Regions from separate parts of the Homo sapiens genome. Here region 1 is linked to region 2. Evidence: fine-mapped expression QTL. A gene starts in region 2. The other region holds a variant in brackets. All regions are shown on one strand. Distances are between the middles of the regions.

What was found.
Region 1: its variant is fine-mapped to the expression of C6orf89 in whole blood (TOPMed, PIP 0.92).

The regions. Positions count from the first base shown.
Region 1 is chr6:36,913,795-36,922,128 of GRCh38, reverse strand. C6orf89 (chromosome 6 open reading frame 89) reads right to left here. Exons shown (of 9, transcript NM_001286635.2): 5 at 7,694-7,845; 6 at 7,436-7,575; 7 at 5,555-5,684; 8 at 2,428-2,551. Among named protein-coding and RNA genes, the nearest start is that of C6orf89, 32 kb to the right of the region's middle. The variant A/G (reference allele first, on the strand shown) is at 4,993.
Region 2 is chr6:36,882,408-36,890,741 of GRCh38, reverse strand. It overlaps C6orf89 (chromosome 6 open reading frame 89), which reads right to left and starts at 4,790. Exons shown (of 9, transcript NM_001286635.2): 1 at 4,714-4,790. RefSeq lists a silencer at 4,551-4,730 and an enhancer at 4,951-5,030.

The DNA of each region.
Region 1 (8,334 bases), 31 kb before region 2:
CTGACCTCAGGTGATCTGCCCGCCTTGACCTCCCCAAGTGCTGGGATTACAGGCGTGAGCCATCGCGCATGGCTTTAAAAATTTTTAATTCAGTGATTTTAGAGACAGGGTCTCGCTTCATTGCCCAGGCTGGAGTGCAGCGGTGCAGTCATAGCTCACTGCAGCCTCAAATTCCTGGGCTCAAGAGATCCTCCCAACTCAGCTTCCTGAGTAGCTGGAACTACAGGCGTGTGCCACCACGCCTGGCTAATTTTGTAATTTTGGGTAGATACAAGGTCCTACCATCTTGCCCAGACTGGTCTTGAACTCCTGGGCTCAAGCAATCCTCCTGCCTTGGCCTCCCAAAGTGCTGGGATTATAGGTGTGAGCTACCCTGCTCAGCCCCTAACAATGCTGTCTTGTACACTTAAAAATTCGTTGAGAGGGTAGATCTCATGTTAAGTGTTTTTACCATAAGAAAATAAAATTTTAAACAAAAAAAATCTCTTGATGGGAAATTTATTCTAGCGTACTATGGGCCCTGCTCATCTTTAAATGAAGAGCACTGAGTAGAATTCAACTTTTACTTGGTGACTTGGTCATGATGGGCAATGACTATCCTGTACAGTGACTGCAGATGTTGTACCTGACCCCCAAAAGGTTTTCTGGTGATCTGGAACCCCTCTCCCCTCCATCTCCACAGGAAAATGTACATTTTGTCAAAAATCATAGAACTTGCATGTCATGGTGCCATTCTTAAGGGTCCCTAAGGTAGAGGAACCGCCATCTGTCCTGTAACACTGAATGATTCTTCTTGGTCAGGGTCTGCTTTCCTGTCCTCATTGTTAACCGTGGCAGTGACAGCCATCATGTCTATTTCTGTCACTGCTTCAGGTGCTCGCTGGCTTCCCCACCCCTCCCTGCCCCCATTCTTCTCCCAGACTTGCTCTCCTCTTCTTCTTCTCTTCAGTCCCCATCCATCTCTGTGTTCTGTCATGTGACTGGCCTTTTATAGACACTGCCAACTATAGGGGTCCTTTCTTTCTAGTCAACAAACCAGCCAGGCACAGCACAGCAGGTATCATGCACCGGATGTTAGGCTAATCTGGACTATCTGTACCAGCATTTGATGCTCAAGCTTTCTTGATCACTGCCAGACTTTTTTTTTTTTAATTTTTCCCTAATTCTGTAATTGGTATTCCGGTTGCTCGTGGGAGCCGGAAGTCTGGAATTCAGATAACTAAGGTGTTTCTGTAGTTGTCTGAATTGTTAGGCATTTGTAAAATATAAAACAGAAACTTGTTCAAGCACAACCACATGCTCCAAACCTAAATATGCCAGAGAGATTTTCGCAATAGTCATCTCTTGTGTTAAGAGTCACTCCATTACAGGAAAAAGATTCAGAACGATTTCCATACAAGAATCCTCGTTTTTGTAGGAAGTTTCCCAAGAGCCAGGCCAGCTGTGCTCCATTATTAGTTAATGCTTGATTTGTACCTTATTTTTATTTTTCATTTCTGAATTGAAATAAAAGTTATGTAACCTAAATTAAGACTTGGCATAGCTTGCAGTCCAATTCCTACCCTCATATGAGATGCAAGGTTTCTAGGGGCTTGGGGGTCTTCTGAATGGGTAAAATTAAAAGAAATCAATTGGAAAACCAGTCTGGGCTCTGCCAGAGACTCCAGGTCTTGCCTAGGTTTTGTGAGGCAGGAAAAGCAAGGAGGTCAATGGTGACACTCGCTGATTTATTTGCTTCTTCCAAGAAAACTCGGCTGTCAAACAGATTGCTACTGACAGCAGTGGATTCAAACCTGTTTCTTTGGAACAGATTTTTAATTAGGATATAAGGCACAGGACAAGTCACATTTGGGCAAACACTGAGCCAGGGTCAAGGGTGAGTCATCAATGTGAGGCTGTGACTTGGCTGTGGCAGCCACACAGAAGGTAACATTTCCTTGTGTGACCATTGCCCTTATATACTGCTTGGTATTGTTTTATTTGCAAAATGGGTATATATTCCTGTAGTCCTTGATTGTCCCTCTCCTGGCTTGACTGTGTTCAAGCAGGCACTTAAGACCTGACGCTCTGCTCGACTGACAGTGGGGCCTTGGGGTGGTCACCTCTCCTCTCTGGGTCTCAACCTTTTCATCTATAAAACGAGGGATTGGTCTAAATATTTTCCAGAATCCTTCCTAACTTGAAGTTTCTATGATCAATAGACACACGCATTCTATATGTTGTATGTACAAGCCATTTCTTTCTGCTATGTTTTCTCATTAAGTTGTTTCATTTCTAAGCATAAATATTGAGCCTGTTAACAGGAGAATGTTATTTTTGATTCTACTAAATAAAACTTTTGTGAAGGCAGTATGTGATTCTTAAAATAGCTTTTGAGTTAAAAACTAAAAAGATCCATTGACCCTGCCCTCCTGGGGCCCTACATACCGATATCCCCTGGCTCTATTGGCATGGCCACAGACTGACAATGTCTTCGGCACTGGAAGGGAGGGATGAGCTGCAACATGGCCTCACCGCTGCCAATGATAAATAGGTCAGGCATCTTATGCATCTGGAGGAAAGAATGAGGAGGGGAGGAAAAGGAAGGCAAAGAAAACGAAATAAAACCAGGGGGTTTAGTAAATAAAAATGCTTTCACATATGGCTCTGAGTTTCCTAGCATAAGCAAAGAGGAAATAGAACCAATAACAAAAATTTGCAATTATGTCCAAAAGACAAAAACAAACTACTTTCTCCTAAGAATGGCATCTCTTGGTACTAAGACCAGAGTAAAATCTCTTCTATGGGTTCTCCTAAAGAGGCACTGTGTGATTTAGTGGGCAATACCCTCAACGAGAGCCCCAGAGTAGATCCTGCATGAGCTTTGTAATTTGCAACTATTTTTAGCCACAGCTTCAAAGTAAGCCAAAGAAAAATACCTAATTGCAATTTAACAAAGGTAGTTCCAGCAGAAACCAGCACATGGTGGCTGAAGTATACAACATTCTGAGATTCTGGTTTGATGAAAACTTTTTAGATAAATAGATAATCAGCATATCCTTTGGGCACTCTTCCATGGAATGTTATTTCTTACTACCAGGGCCCTGATAAGAATTGTACAGCAGCAAGTTTAAGTTTACACTGCCTGGCAAGACCCAGGGGAGCAGATATGCCATGCTACCGATTAAAAACTAATGACACTAAGACTGGCCTCTGATTTTGAAAACTAAGGAGACAATCAGCATATGCACCTGCACAGGTAACTACTGCCCCTCTGAGGGCATGATACTGCCAGCAACAGGCATTAAATGCAACCTGCTATGTGCCAGGGAAGGAGCTGTGAACCCTGGGGTGGGGCTGGGACCAGGGCAAGGAATAGGGATAAAGAGAGAGATGGGTCTTGCTGGGACATTTCTCCTTACCTTGATGATGACAGAAAACCCCTAGGGCCTCTTCTCTCATCTCTTCCTCCTATCTCTTGCCCTTCAGAGAAACCCTTTATATGCCCATATAAAGTGGGAGCCAGAAGTCTGACTCCCTGGGCCATGTCTTGGTTTTCTCTTCACCACTCAGGGCCTCCAGAGTCTTGGGTTTTGGCCCCATCTTCCCCTGTCCCCAACCCTGTTCTCTCTGCTGCTGCCACAGGCCTTGCCCATAATGTTTTCATGGCAACACCAGAGCCATTTCACCGGCTAATGTGGTGACAGGGACAGCCTGGTGTCTTCAGCTAGCCTTCAGTTGACTGGTACTAATATTGGCAGAAGCCTTAACATCTGTAGTCCTCAAAACAATCTCAGAAGGACCAAAACAAGTGGCTGTATCCCTTCTTCACACAGGCCTGAAGTGGGCAGGGTCATGTTCATCCATTCCCAGGATGGGAAGAAACAGACAAGAGGGTGGCACAGGCCAGCCCTAGGCCACACCGTGGAGTGGGTGAAGTGGGCCTTGGAGGCCCTCACCTTCTCCCCGAGTGCCACTTAACAACCAGCTCCCCAATTCTGTCCCAAGGCTGCCTTTGGACACTGGGCCCACAGACACGTGACTTTAACAGGGCCCAGGGCCCAGGGCCCAGGGATGTGGACAACAGGGTGGGGTAACAAGGCTGCGGGGAAAGGGGAGCTTGGGCCAGGGTGGGGAAACAGATTCTCTAAGAAACTGGGTTCTCAAGAGTTTTGCCTGTCTGGCCACTGCCCTTCCCAAAACATCCTCGAGAACCACAGCATGACTCTCGTAAGCATTTGAGTAACTCTGTATTTACTCCTTTGGCTGGGCTCCTTGGTGTTGCACACGCTGGAGAAATTAACTTTGGTATTCAAGTGGTAAAACCAAGAGAAAGATAAAGCCGTGTCCCAGAATTATATTTATGAAGATGAAATCATACAAGGGCCTGGAATTCCAGCCGGCGACAGCAGGATAAACTTCTTTAAAATCTGAGGCAAGAGCCCAGCATCTCCACCCCAGTGCTGGCAGACAGAACTTCTTACTTCTAGACAAAATGATTGTTTTTATAGGCTTTTAAATTCCTTTAACACAATTCAGCAAATTTGGAGCCAAGCGATAGTATCAGGAGGTGGAAGCCATGGTCCAGAGGTGGCAGGGGGCCATAGTTTGGGAAATTTATTTTTTTATGAAGGAAAATGCATGCTTTTAATTCTCCCAAACCGATCCAGGCTCAAAAACCTTCCTTAGGAATGAGACTCAACAAAAGGAGCAATTCAGAGAAAAGTAAACAGACACAAATGCAGAACAGCTTCTCCCAGTCCACTGGCCCCAGAGAGGTAACTTTGGCTCTGAGCACTTGGCCCCAGACTGAAGTGGGAAATGATGGGGGCAGAGTGGGCTTTTCTACCCCAGCTGGGCTGCCTGCCTATCAAATCCTTCCCAGGCTCCCACACTTTTTGCCTTTCAAGTTCTCTACCTGAAATCTCTTAATTGTTTATTTCTGGCAAAAACCATCCTGGGGGTGAGAGGGTAAAGGGTGTGTCCTTGGGCAACTCACTTAATCTCTCTGGG[A/G]CTCAGTTTCCTTATCCACAAAATGGAGCAGTTATTCTATTCATCCACATACTATTACCTTATAGCTTTCTTTTCTTTTTTTGAAAAAATAGAGATAGGGTCTCCCTATATTGCCCAGGCTGGTCTGAAACTCCTAGGCTCAAGCAATCCTCTTGCCTCAGCCTCCCCAAGTGCTGGATTACAGGCGTGAGCGACCACCGATCATGGCTGCTTGCCTACTTTCTAATTTAAGGTAGGAAAGCCAGACTAATTGCACCCTCAAGTCCTTCAAATTTTAAGATTTCACTTCTTTTAATATAGAAAAGTAGTTTGCCTCAGGTGTTAAGGGCAGGAGGCAGATTTGCAAGGTAACTAGATTTTCTGGAAACCTGCCTTCATGACAAGGTGGGCCCCTGCAAGTCTCCTGGCTAGCAGCAGGAGGGGAGAACTAGACTGTGTGGGTGTCCCCTCAATTCACCCTGTAACCCTCTAAGCCAATATGCAGGGAAGGCCTTGGTTATGACATCAGTCCAGGTCCCAAATAAAGAAAATTCTAGATCCAAGTCCTCTCAAAATTTCCTACCTTACTCCCCACAACAGGTTCTGGGTGAAGAAAGGAGCACTTGTTTAAAGAGGCATCTTTTGGAAATGGCAGGTGAGTGAAAACAGGAAAAAGCTCACGTAACATTTGTGATCTGTTCAGAGGTCTCCTCCTGTAGAAGTATGAAACAGAAAAAAAGTAATTAAACTGGTCAAGCCAGCCCATGACTAAGAGAGAGCCAAGTAAGGGTGGGAAAACTGTGGGCGGTGGGTAAAGAGGGAAAAATATGAGTACAGTATCTTAAGTACTAGGTCCCTGAAGAATAGTTGCACAGAGTCAATGAACTATAATGTGTACACACACAGGCATAAACTCTACAGCCATGATTTGAGTATGTGGGTGGAGTGTTTCTAAATTGCAGCTAAAACAATATATATTGGAAGGAAAGAAATAATCTATTCATTCTATCTTGGAAAAGACTGAAGTAACAGCAGGCCAGGCGGGGGAAGGGGAGAAGAGAGAAGGAGGAAGGGACAAAAAGCATGACCCTTCTTCTGAGGCACAGGGAGACGCAGGGGGAAGCCTGCTCAGCTTGTTCAACTGGGCACTCTAGCACGCAAACAAACAGCACATTTAAAGAAAGATAGAAGCATTAAGAAATTAACAAAAAGCCTGAAAAAGTCATTTTAATTCTTTCGAAACAGTTCTAAGATGGAAACTGGCTTTCTTTTCTTACTAGACAGCAACCTTAACCACAAGGAATGAACCATGTCTTCCGCAGGGCACAGGAAGGAACAGCAGGACAAACTGGGGTTTCGATCCTGGCTGGGTAACCTTAGGCAAGTTACTTAATCTCTCTGTTTCCCATTTTTCTTTCTTTCTTTCCCCCTCCCCCAACCTTTTTTTTTTTTGAAACAGGGTCTCACTTTGTCGCCCAGGCTGGAGTGCAGTGGTATGATCATGGCTTACTGCAGCTTCAACCTCCCAGGCTCAAGCCATCCTCCCACCTCAGCCTCCCAAGTAGCTTGGATATTTTTTGTAGAGATGGGGTCTCCCTATGTTGCCTGGGCTGGTCTCCAACTCCCGGGCCCAAGTGATCAACCCGCCTCAGACTCCCAAAGTGTTGGGATTATAGGCATGAGCCACCACGCCTAGCTACTGATCCCCACTTGTCTGATCTGAAGAATGACAACAATCATTCCTACTTTCCAGAGTTATTATCAGTGTCCCCAGTGAGACACAGACACTAAGCACCAAGCCACACTGCCTGGCAGAAACAAGTGCCAAAAAATGCAATTCTCCTTCTATTATTTGCACTCTCTCTTCAGCCCCCTGCATGAGGCCCCATTCTACATAAAATGCTAAATGCATACTTCGAAATAAATTATGACTCTATTAGACAAACTTGCTGTCCCCCCCATGGTGGCACCCCTCCTTCTGACACACCTCTTCATCCATCCCTTTTATCTCTCATCACTGGTTTATCAGTGGGATCCCAGCATTGGATTTGTAAAGTGTTGGGCCTGTGGTAGTGGCTCAGTGATAGCTATTACTGTTTTGCAGGTATTTCTGGTCTGCCCCTTTCCTACTCGCACGCTAAGTGCCCCCATAGCCCCCCCATTTTTTTGAGACACAGTCTCACTCTGTCACCCAAGCTGGAGGGCAATGGCGCGATCTCAGCTCATGGCAACCTCCACCTCCCAGGTTCAAGTGATTCTCATGCCTCAGCCTCCAGAGTAGCTGGGATTACAGGCATGCACCACCATACCTGGCTAATTTTTGTATTTTTAGTAGAGATGGGGTTTTGCCATGTTGGCCAGGCTGGTCTGCAACTCCTAGGCTCAAGTGATCTGCCTGCCTCGGCCTCCCAAAGTGCTGGGATCACAGGCATGAGCCACTGTGCCCGGCCCTTTTCACACTCACCATGGATAAGGAAATGGGAACCACCGCTCAGGAAAGCAGCGCCACCACTTGGCGAAAAACCCTTCAGAGAAGCCTTCTGTCGCCTCAGGGTACTGGCACAAAAAATGCTGAATCTCTTCCTCCAACAGGGGCTTTCCCGTCTTGGCAAGGCAGGAAACAAAACAAAACAACACAGAGTTACTTGTCAGAAATTTCCTAGAGCTTGACCTAGCCTTTAAGCAAGCAGCCAATCAGCGGGAGACTCAGGCTTCTGCTCACCTTGATCACCAGTGGATGGAGCCTCTCAAATTTCCTTGGGGCGTCTTCCAGGAGCATCACCTTCAGGTGTTTCTGGGCACAGCCAGTGCAGTTGGCAGGAATGGGCTCTGACTCATTCTGCTCACAGTCGTTTGTCCACCAGGGGTCAAAGTCTGAGAGAGGAAGGGATATGGAGAAAACAGATACTGAAAGAGCATAGCTGGTACATCCAGTAGCTCCAACAATGAAACAAGAAAGGAAAGACATCATAATGACTTTTATTTATTTATTTATTTTGAGACAGAGTCTCACTCTGTCGCCCAGGCTGGAGTGCAGTGGTGCCGTCCAGCTCACTGTAACCCCTGCCTCCTGGGTTCAAGGGATTCTCCTGCTACAGCCTTCCGAGGAGCTGGAACTACAGGCGCATGCCACCACACATGGCTAATTTTTGTATTTTTAGTTGAAACGGGGTCTTGCCATGTTGCCCAGGCTGGTCTTGAATTCCTGGGCTCACATGATCTGCCCACCTTGGCCTCCCAAAATGCTGGGATTACAGGCGCAAGCCACCGCATCCAGCCCATAATAATTTTTAAAAACAAACAATGATAAGCACTGGAGACCGCTGAAAAGGTAAGGTATATATGAAGCAGCCTCTGAGGAGG
Region 2 (8,334 bases):
CATAACATAGCAAAACCCTGTCTCTACTAAAAATACAAAAATTAGCCAGGCATGGTGACGCATGCCTATAATCCCAGCTACTCGGGAGGCTGAGGCATGAGAATCACTTGAACCTGGGAGGTGGAGGTTGCAGTGAGCAGAGATCACATCATGGCACCCCAGCCTGAGCAACAGACTGAGACTCTGTGTCAAAAGAATAAAATTTTTTTTTTAAATGTAGTATATACATACAATGGAATATTATTCAGCCTTAAAAAAGAAAGAAATCCTGCTATTTGTAACAATACGGATGGACCTGGAGGACATTATGCTAAGTGAAATAAGCCAGACACAGAAAGATAAATACTACATGATACCACTTGTGCGATTAATCTAAAATAGCTAAACTCATAGAAGCAAAGAACAGAATGGTGGTTGCAGGAGGCTGCAGGCAGGGGGAAACAGGGAGGTACTGGGCAAAGAATACAAAGTTTCAGTTATACAAGATGAATAACTCCTAGAGACCTACTATACAGCACAGTGCCCAGAGTTAACAATACTGTATTGTATATTTAAAAATATGCTAAGAAGGTAGGTCTTATGTTAAGTGTTCTTATTGCTAATAGTAATAATAAGTAAGAAGGCAGGAGGAAACTTGAAGGTGATGGATAGGTTGATGGCATGGATCATGGTGATGGTTTCACAAGGGCATACTTATGTCCAAATTCATCAAGCTGTACACATTAAATGTGTAAAGCTTTTTGTACAAAAATAGTACAATGAACACCTGGATATCCTTCATTTAGATTTACCAGTTGTTTACATTTGGCTATATTTTCTTTCTGTTTTTACCAGAACTACTTGAAAGTTATTTGCAACACATTATAAAATCATTTCTAAATATTTCAACATGCATCTCCTAAGAATAACGACGTTATTCTACACACAACCATTGGCATTATTGCCATACCCATTAAAATGAGTAATCTCTTAATATTACCTAATATTCAGTCTATAGTCAAGTTTCCTTAACTATCAAATTTTTTTAAAAAGATCATATAGCTATTTAAAAATCCAGGATCCAACCAATGACCACACATTGAATTTGGCTGCCATGCCTCTCTTTAATCTACTTAACTTCAGAACAAGTCCCCAGTGTGTGGTTTTTCTTTTTTTTTTTGTTTTTGTTTTTTGGTCTTTTAGGACATTGACATACTTGAAGAAGTCTTCACATTTTTAAGCTTACCTCTACTTGCTTCCATCCTCACCCTTTCCAGTTTCTACTATCAGAAAAATGCCATAATAGTTCCTTTCTAAGTTTCTGGTACTCTCTCCCTCCCTCCCTTCAGAGGAAAGCTCCTTTGGGGGTTGGGGGGAGAAAGTAACACACTTTCTTGTTTCTCAGGTTTCCATTCATTTATTAACCTGTTGAAATCATATTTCTGCCTCCTCACTCCACCGACATTGCTTTCACTGAGGCCACAAATGGCTTTCTAAACGCCAAGTTCGAAGGACGTTTTTTTCAGTTATTACCTTATCTGACCTCTCTGCAGCAGCTGCTGTTGCTACCCCATTATCTATCTCCCTCAAGTGTACTCAAACCTTAACATAATTCTCTCGTTCTCTGCTGGTATCCACCAGTTATCCTTGACCTTCTTATTCCCTCCAACACTTTGACCACCAGCTATTGGTGATTCCCAAATCTCTTCTCCAGTCTACAACTCTCTCTAGGGTTCAAGACCCATTTATCTACCTGCCTACCAGACACGGTGATCCAAGTTTCCCATAGCTCCCTGTATGTAATGTGTCTATAACCCAACTTACTGTTTTCCCCTTCAACTCATTCCTCCCACTGCACCTCTTTTCTTAATGGAAACACTAATCCTCCAAATTTAAAAACTATTCTCCTCCTACCTCACTCCCACCAATGAAACTATCACTAAGTCCTCTTGATTCAGCCTCCTATATAATTCTCACATTCATCCCTTCCTCTCTACATTAACAGCACAGTTAAGGTCTTCAACATCTCTCCTATGGACCATCACAAAGATGTAGTTAATCTCTATACTTCCAGTTCTCCTCTTCCCCAATCCATTCTCTACCTTGTCCAGTTTTTTATTTTTATTTTCTGAGACAGGGTCTCACTCTTCGCTCAGGCTGGAGTGCAGTGACATGATCTCAGCTCACTGCAACCTCTGTCTCCTGGCTTCAAGAGATTCTCGTGCCTCAGCCTCTGGAGTAGCTGGGAGTACAGGCACGCGCCACCACACTCAGCTAATTTTTGTATTTTTCTGGTAAAAAATGGGTTTCACCATGTTGGCCAGGCTGGTCTTGAACTCCTGACCTCAAGTGATCCACCCACCTTAGCCTCCCAAAGTGCTAGGATTACAAGCGTGAGCCGCTGCACTCGGCCACTTATTTTTTTGAAACACAAATTGGCTCATGCTAAGCACCTTCCAAGACTCCCCATCCTCTGCAGGAGCAGTTTAGCATGGTGACTAAGAACACAGATACTGGAGTTGGAAAAAGCTGGATGCAAATTCTAGATTTTACCACTTACTGTGTGGCCATGAGACACTACTCATCCTCTCTAAGCCTCAGTTTTCATGTATAAAATGGGGATAATTATTTCTACCCCACAATGTTTTATTTCAGAGAATTATAAAATGATGTAACACATTTGTTCCAATAGCCAGACAAATTAAATACCTAATAACAATCATTTTAAGATAAAGTCCTAAGTCAAGCATGGTGGTTCATGCCTGTAATCCCAACACTGGGAGGCTGAGGTGGGAGGACTGCTTGAGCCCAGGACTTCCAAGACCAGCCTGGGTAACATAGCAAGACCCTGTATCTACAAAAAAAATAAAAATAAAAATTGGCCGAGTGTGGTGGTGCCTGCCTGTAGTCCCAGCTACTTGGGAAGCAGAGGTGAGGGGTAGCTTGAGCCCAGGAGTTCGAGGCTGCAGTGAACCGTAATAGCACCACTGTACTCCAACCTGGGTGATGGAATGAGATTCCTGTCTTTTTTAAAAGATAAAGTCCAAATTACTTACCATGGCCCTTTATGATCTGGTCACTGCCTACCTGTTCAGTTTCATTTCCCATCAATCCTTCTTCACATTCTACACTGTCATACTATTTCACATCTTTTTGCTTTTGCATACACAATTTCCTCTGCCTAAAAAGCCTAGTCTCCAGTGCTTTGTCCAATAAGTGAACTCTTTAAGACTCTGACCTCAGTTTTTGTCCTATGCACCTCTAGGGCTTGGCATTACATCTATTTTCCTGTCTACCTCCCACCCTAAATAGTGTTTCTTGAAAGCAGAGATAAATGGAGAAAACACAAAAAACTAAGAACAGACGTGGGAATTCACCTCAGATGTGGAATCAGATCAATGTTGAACAAATTTATAGAAAGGACCTAAAATTATCATTCCGAACTAATTGAATGTAACTCGTGGCTCATGGTTTATTCATTTTATGTTTTATTATTTTATTCATTTTTAAAAATGCAGAGGTCGGGAGCCTGAGGCAGGAGAATGGTGTGAACCGGGGAGGCGGAGCTTGCAGTGAGCAGAGATCACGCCACTGCACTCCAGCCTGGGCGACAGTGTGAGACTCCGTCTCAAAAAAAAAAAAACAAAAAAACGCAGAGGTAGCAACAATGTGATGAGGGTTTAAGGTTAGCAGGTTAGGAATCTAGCATTTGGACATTGTTTCTGGTGTGTGGAGTAGCTGTGGAGGAACAGGTATTCAAAGCAGGTCTTGAAAAATGCCTCAGTCCAAGGCAGAAAAGGTCTGACAGAAACAGGACCTCTTTCTGGTATGCAAGTTGGGCTACATGAACCTTTAGTCAAAACTTCAATGTAGCAGAATTGAATTTATTAGTTATTATTTTAAAGGCATGTTATTCCCTAGAGGGAAATTTTGACAACCCAAATTCAAATGAACGAATTTATTAAGGGAGAGACGTCTATAGAAGATCCCACCACAGGAACTACCAAATGAGCCATCAGAAAAGTCAGAATACTAAGTATCTGGAAGTAGTCTCTATTATAAAGTGATTTATGACTAAATACTTTAAAAGAAACATATTTGCGAATACAAAGGCTATGAGGGCTCTGAGACTAGAAAGTGTGGCCTGCACGGTTAACAGTCTTAAAATACTACAAAACACGACGCAGGCAAATTTCCTTCTACTAAGAGGTGATTACAAACAACTATTTTACTTGTGTCAAGAAACCAAGTCATATTTCTTTCTGAAATCCAAGATGCCAGGTTTATCACATACCAAGTACACATTTAAAGAAAAAAAATTATTGCCCCCTAACGATTATTAGAAAAAGATCTTTCAGAAGGGGGTGGGGAATCTACTCTTAATTTCTTAAAAATTCCGTCAAAAGGGCAGAAATCTGGACTTCATTAGCAACGCTCAAGTTATGGACACTGCTGTGATGCCTGAGAACCAAGTTCAAGCAAGGTCCACCTCGTTTTGCTCTCCCCGGCGGAGTCAAAGAAAGTGACAGATGTCTTAAGGGAGTCGACCCCGGGGGAGCTGCCAGGGGATGCTGTCAGTCTACAAAACTGGAGAGACTGAGAAAAGGGATCCGCGCTGGGATAGAGGGTGGTAGCAGCGGCGAGAAGCGGCTGCGCGAGGATGTCAGAGACGGGCGCGGCGAGGCTGTCACAGGGCGGCCTCCCCCCACCCAGCCTCGGGCCCCAGTCACTCACATGCGGGGCTCGCGCCCCTCGGGCTCCTCCCGCCTCGGGGACAGCTGCCGCCGGGCGAGGAGGATGGGCAACTTCCTGTTTCCGGGAGCGCGACCCGGAAGCAACCCCCCACTCCTGGGCGAGGCCTTGTACCCTAGAGTAATTCCTCCTCTCGTCCAGCGCTTCCGCCCAAAACAGAACACTCAGTGTCGTGGCGAGCGCGGGACCTCTCGCGATATCTGGAGAGTGTAGGTTCTTGCTCCCCCTGGCGTCCTTCTTCCGTTCTGGCTCTTTTCGCCCCAGTCCTAAATCCTTGTCTTCCTAATTTACCTGGACTGGCTCACACAGACTTCATAGCTGAACTGATCCATAGAACAAGCATTTACTGAGTCCCCTACTATGTGCCAGGCAGCATGTTAGGCATTAAGGGATGGGAGTGGAAGGGAAATGTAAATGAAGAGCAGCCCCTTCCTTCTGGAAGCTACTACTCTTGAGAAAGACGAACAAATCCCTCCAGTTTTCACTCAGCCCACTCATTAGTGAGAGCTTACTCTGTTGATAAAAGAAAAACTTAAGCCGAATTAAGTATAAAGGAGTTTAATTGAGCAATGGAAGATTCACGAATCAGGCAACCCCCAGAATCACAGCAGATTCACAGACTCCCAGGGTGCCTCATGGTCAGAACAAATTTATAGATAAAAAAGGCAAAGTGAGGCACAGGAATCGGAAGTAAGGTACAGAAACAGTGAGGTTGGTTACAGCTCGGTGTTTGCCTGATTTGAACGCAGATTGAACATTCAGCAGGCTGTGAGTGGTTGAAGTATGGCCGCTGGGATTGGCCACCACTCAGTTATTGTTACAGGTGTATACTATTAAGTTAGGTTTTCAATTTTGTTTGACTATTAAGCTATGTTACAGTTCATCCACAAGGACTCAAATATAGAAGGACAGAGTCCTTCTCAGGCCATATTTAGTTTGCCTTAACAATTCCCCCGTTTTGGTCATTTTCTCAATTTTGAGAGATTGACCAAAACCTTGGTCATTGATGTTATTATCGCTGTCATAAGTGTACCTGTATGGTTTTGAAACTCACTAGGAAACAGTAGAACAGTGGGTTTTGCAGGAAGAGAATAAGGGCTGAGTAGAGGATACCTCCTTATTCTGAAACATCTGTTTACAGGAGAAAAAACCTGGTCTGTTCTAGCATTTTGTGTTTTTTTAAAGCCTTGGTTTGATTATGTCACATTTAGCATGAGTGACTCCATTTTAGTTTGGTTTGGTTTGTTGGTGCCTAGTGCATGAGCTCAGTCCAAAATAATGGCCTCCCATGATTTTGTTTAAAAAAAAATTCCTCACTTTTGGCCAGGTTCTTACTTAGGTGACAGCGTGACCAGAACTTAGGGCCTTAGCGCCACTCTCAGTTACATCATTTTGGGTTTCTGGTCTCAGCATGTCATTCATAGGTTACGGTGCCTTCATGGTCACACATTTCTTTCAGTTTTTGTTATTCCAGTTGAAAAGAGATCATTTGACGTTGTAGAGATGGCTGCATGCAAGCATTTAAAATCTTTGAGAGAATACAGTGCACCAGGGAGACTATTATTATCATTATCGGGCGGATAATAGCAAGAGTTTGGAGTATGCTCCTTACCCAGGGTCCCCATAAGCCAAACCACCTAAAATTAAATAGATTGAAGAATGAGTTAGATGAAGAGTCTCCTTGCTTGACTAAGTGGTCTTTTCACTAATCCCCTACAACTGGATATTTATTTTTATTGTATTTATTTTGTGAGAGGGAGTCTTGCTCTGTCACCAAGGCTGGAATGCAGCGGCGATCTCAGCTCACTACAACCTCCACCTCCTAGGTTCAAGTGACTCTCCCGCCTCAGCCTATTGAGTAGCTGAGATTACAGGCACCTGCCACCACGCCAGGCTAATTTTCATATTTTTAGTAGAGACAGGGTTTTGCCATGTTGGCCAGGCTGCTCTCAAACTCCTGACCTCAGGGGATCCGCCTACCTCTGCCTCCCAAAGTGCTGAGGTTACGGGTGTCAGCCATCACGCCCGGCCAGAATTGTTTATAATTTACATTTGCTGTATTTCTCCATAGGCCACAGGTGTCAACAGCTGCACAGGTACTTTTCTGTTTAGCCAATTCTATTACTTAGTATAATTTTCAAAGGAGAATTTAAAGTCTGTTGTGTAACGATAGCCTTTAAAGTAGAATTTGCTGTAGAGCCTATTATGAGGGAGACATTTCAAATTATTGCCTCTTTTATTCTAAACCATGGAAAAAGGACCTAACAAATGGATGTCTTTCTAGAAGAGTGAAGGCCTCTTGTCAATGTTCTCTTTAATCCATGATGTGGGTTAAGAGGAGTTTTGACTGATTATGAGGCAATGTATGTACCACTAAAGTTTGTTACCTACATTGGGCCTTCATCTTTTATCTATTGAAATATAAGGTTATTCATGTTTAAGGCTGGCTGCAAAATCCTTCACAAATAAAAGTATACCCTATAAGTGCATATAATAGACCCACTTTTAATTTCTATTGTTCATAGAGGCATAAACAAGGAAAAAATATTCAAAGATAAGAGTCTTGTGATAGTAGAAGTTTTGATCTATGATCTTGGGAAAAGCTATTCTAATCAAGGATGCCATCTTCTGGGGAGAAACTTTTCTGGTTAGTTTTACCTTAAGGGTTCCAATGGATGTACAGTTCCAGGAGTGTGGAGGGACCCTTCTCAGCTGTGAGATTATGAACCCAAGGTTTAAAGCTCCAAAGTTTTGCTGTAGTGTGGATGGCAAGGACAGTCTTTCTCTTTCTCTGGTGTTCTCAGACGATCCAATCTGCAGGTTCTAGATTGTGAAGGGATTGTCCTCAGTGAATCATAAAAAGTTTTCTTTGTCTGGTGAAAATACACTATAATCTACTGTTATAACATCAGCCCTATTGCATGGGAAAGCTTTTATACAACCAGAAAACATGCATTGAAAATGACAATTCAGGCCGGGCGCGGTGGCTCACGCCTGTAATCCCAGCACTTTGGGAGGCCGAGGCGGGTGGATCATGAGGTCAGGAGATCGAGACCATCCTGGCTAACAAGGTGAAACCCCGTCTCTACTAAAAATACAAAAAAAATTAGCCAGGCGCGGTGGCGGGCGCCTGTAGTCCCAGCTACTCGGGAGGCTGAGGCAGGAGAATGGCGTGAACCCGGGAAGCGGAGCTTGCAGTGAGCCGAGATTGCGCCACTGCAGTCCGCAGTCCCGCCTGGGCGACAGAGCGAGACTCCGTCTCAAAAAAAAAAAAAAGAAAAAAGAAAAAAAAAAAAAGAAAATGACAATTGAATGAAATCTCTTTATAAATGTTTAAATGGCCCATCAGGTAGCCAAACGCATCTGAAGCTTTGATCGTCTTTCCAGGAATATGGAACCAAACATTGGATTTAAATTATTTCTGCAATTTATAAGTCACCACATCAATATATTAAATTTGGATTATTTTATCTTTTCCAGAACGTTTAATAACAAAAGCTTTAAGGACTCAAGAAGGACAAGGTGGCCATCCTGGTTCTTCATGAGTCCATGCTTAACACGGGACTTACGTCCTCTTGAATACCAGTTGTTTCTCCAATTTAG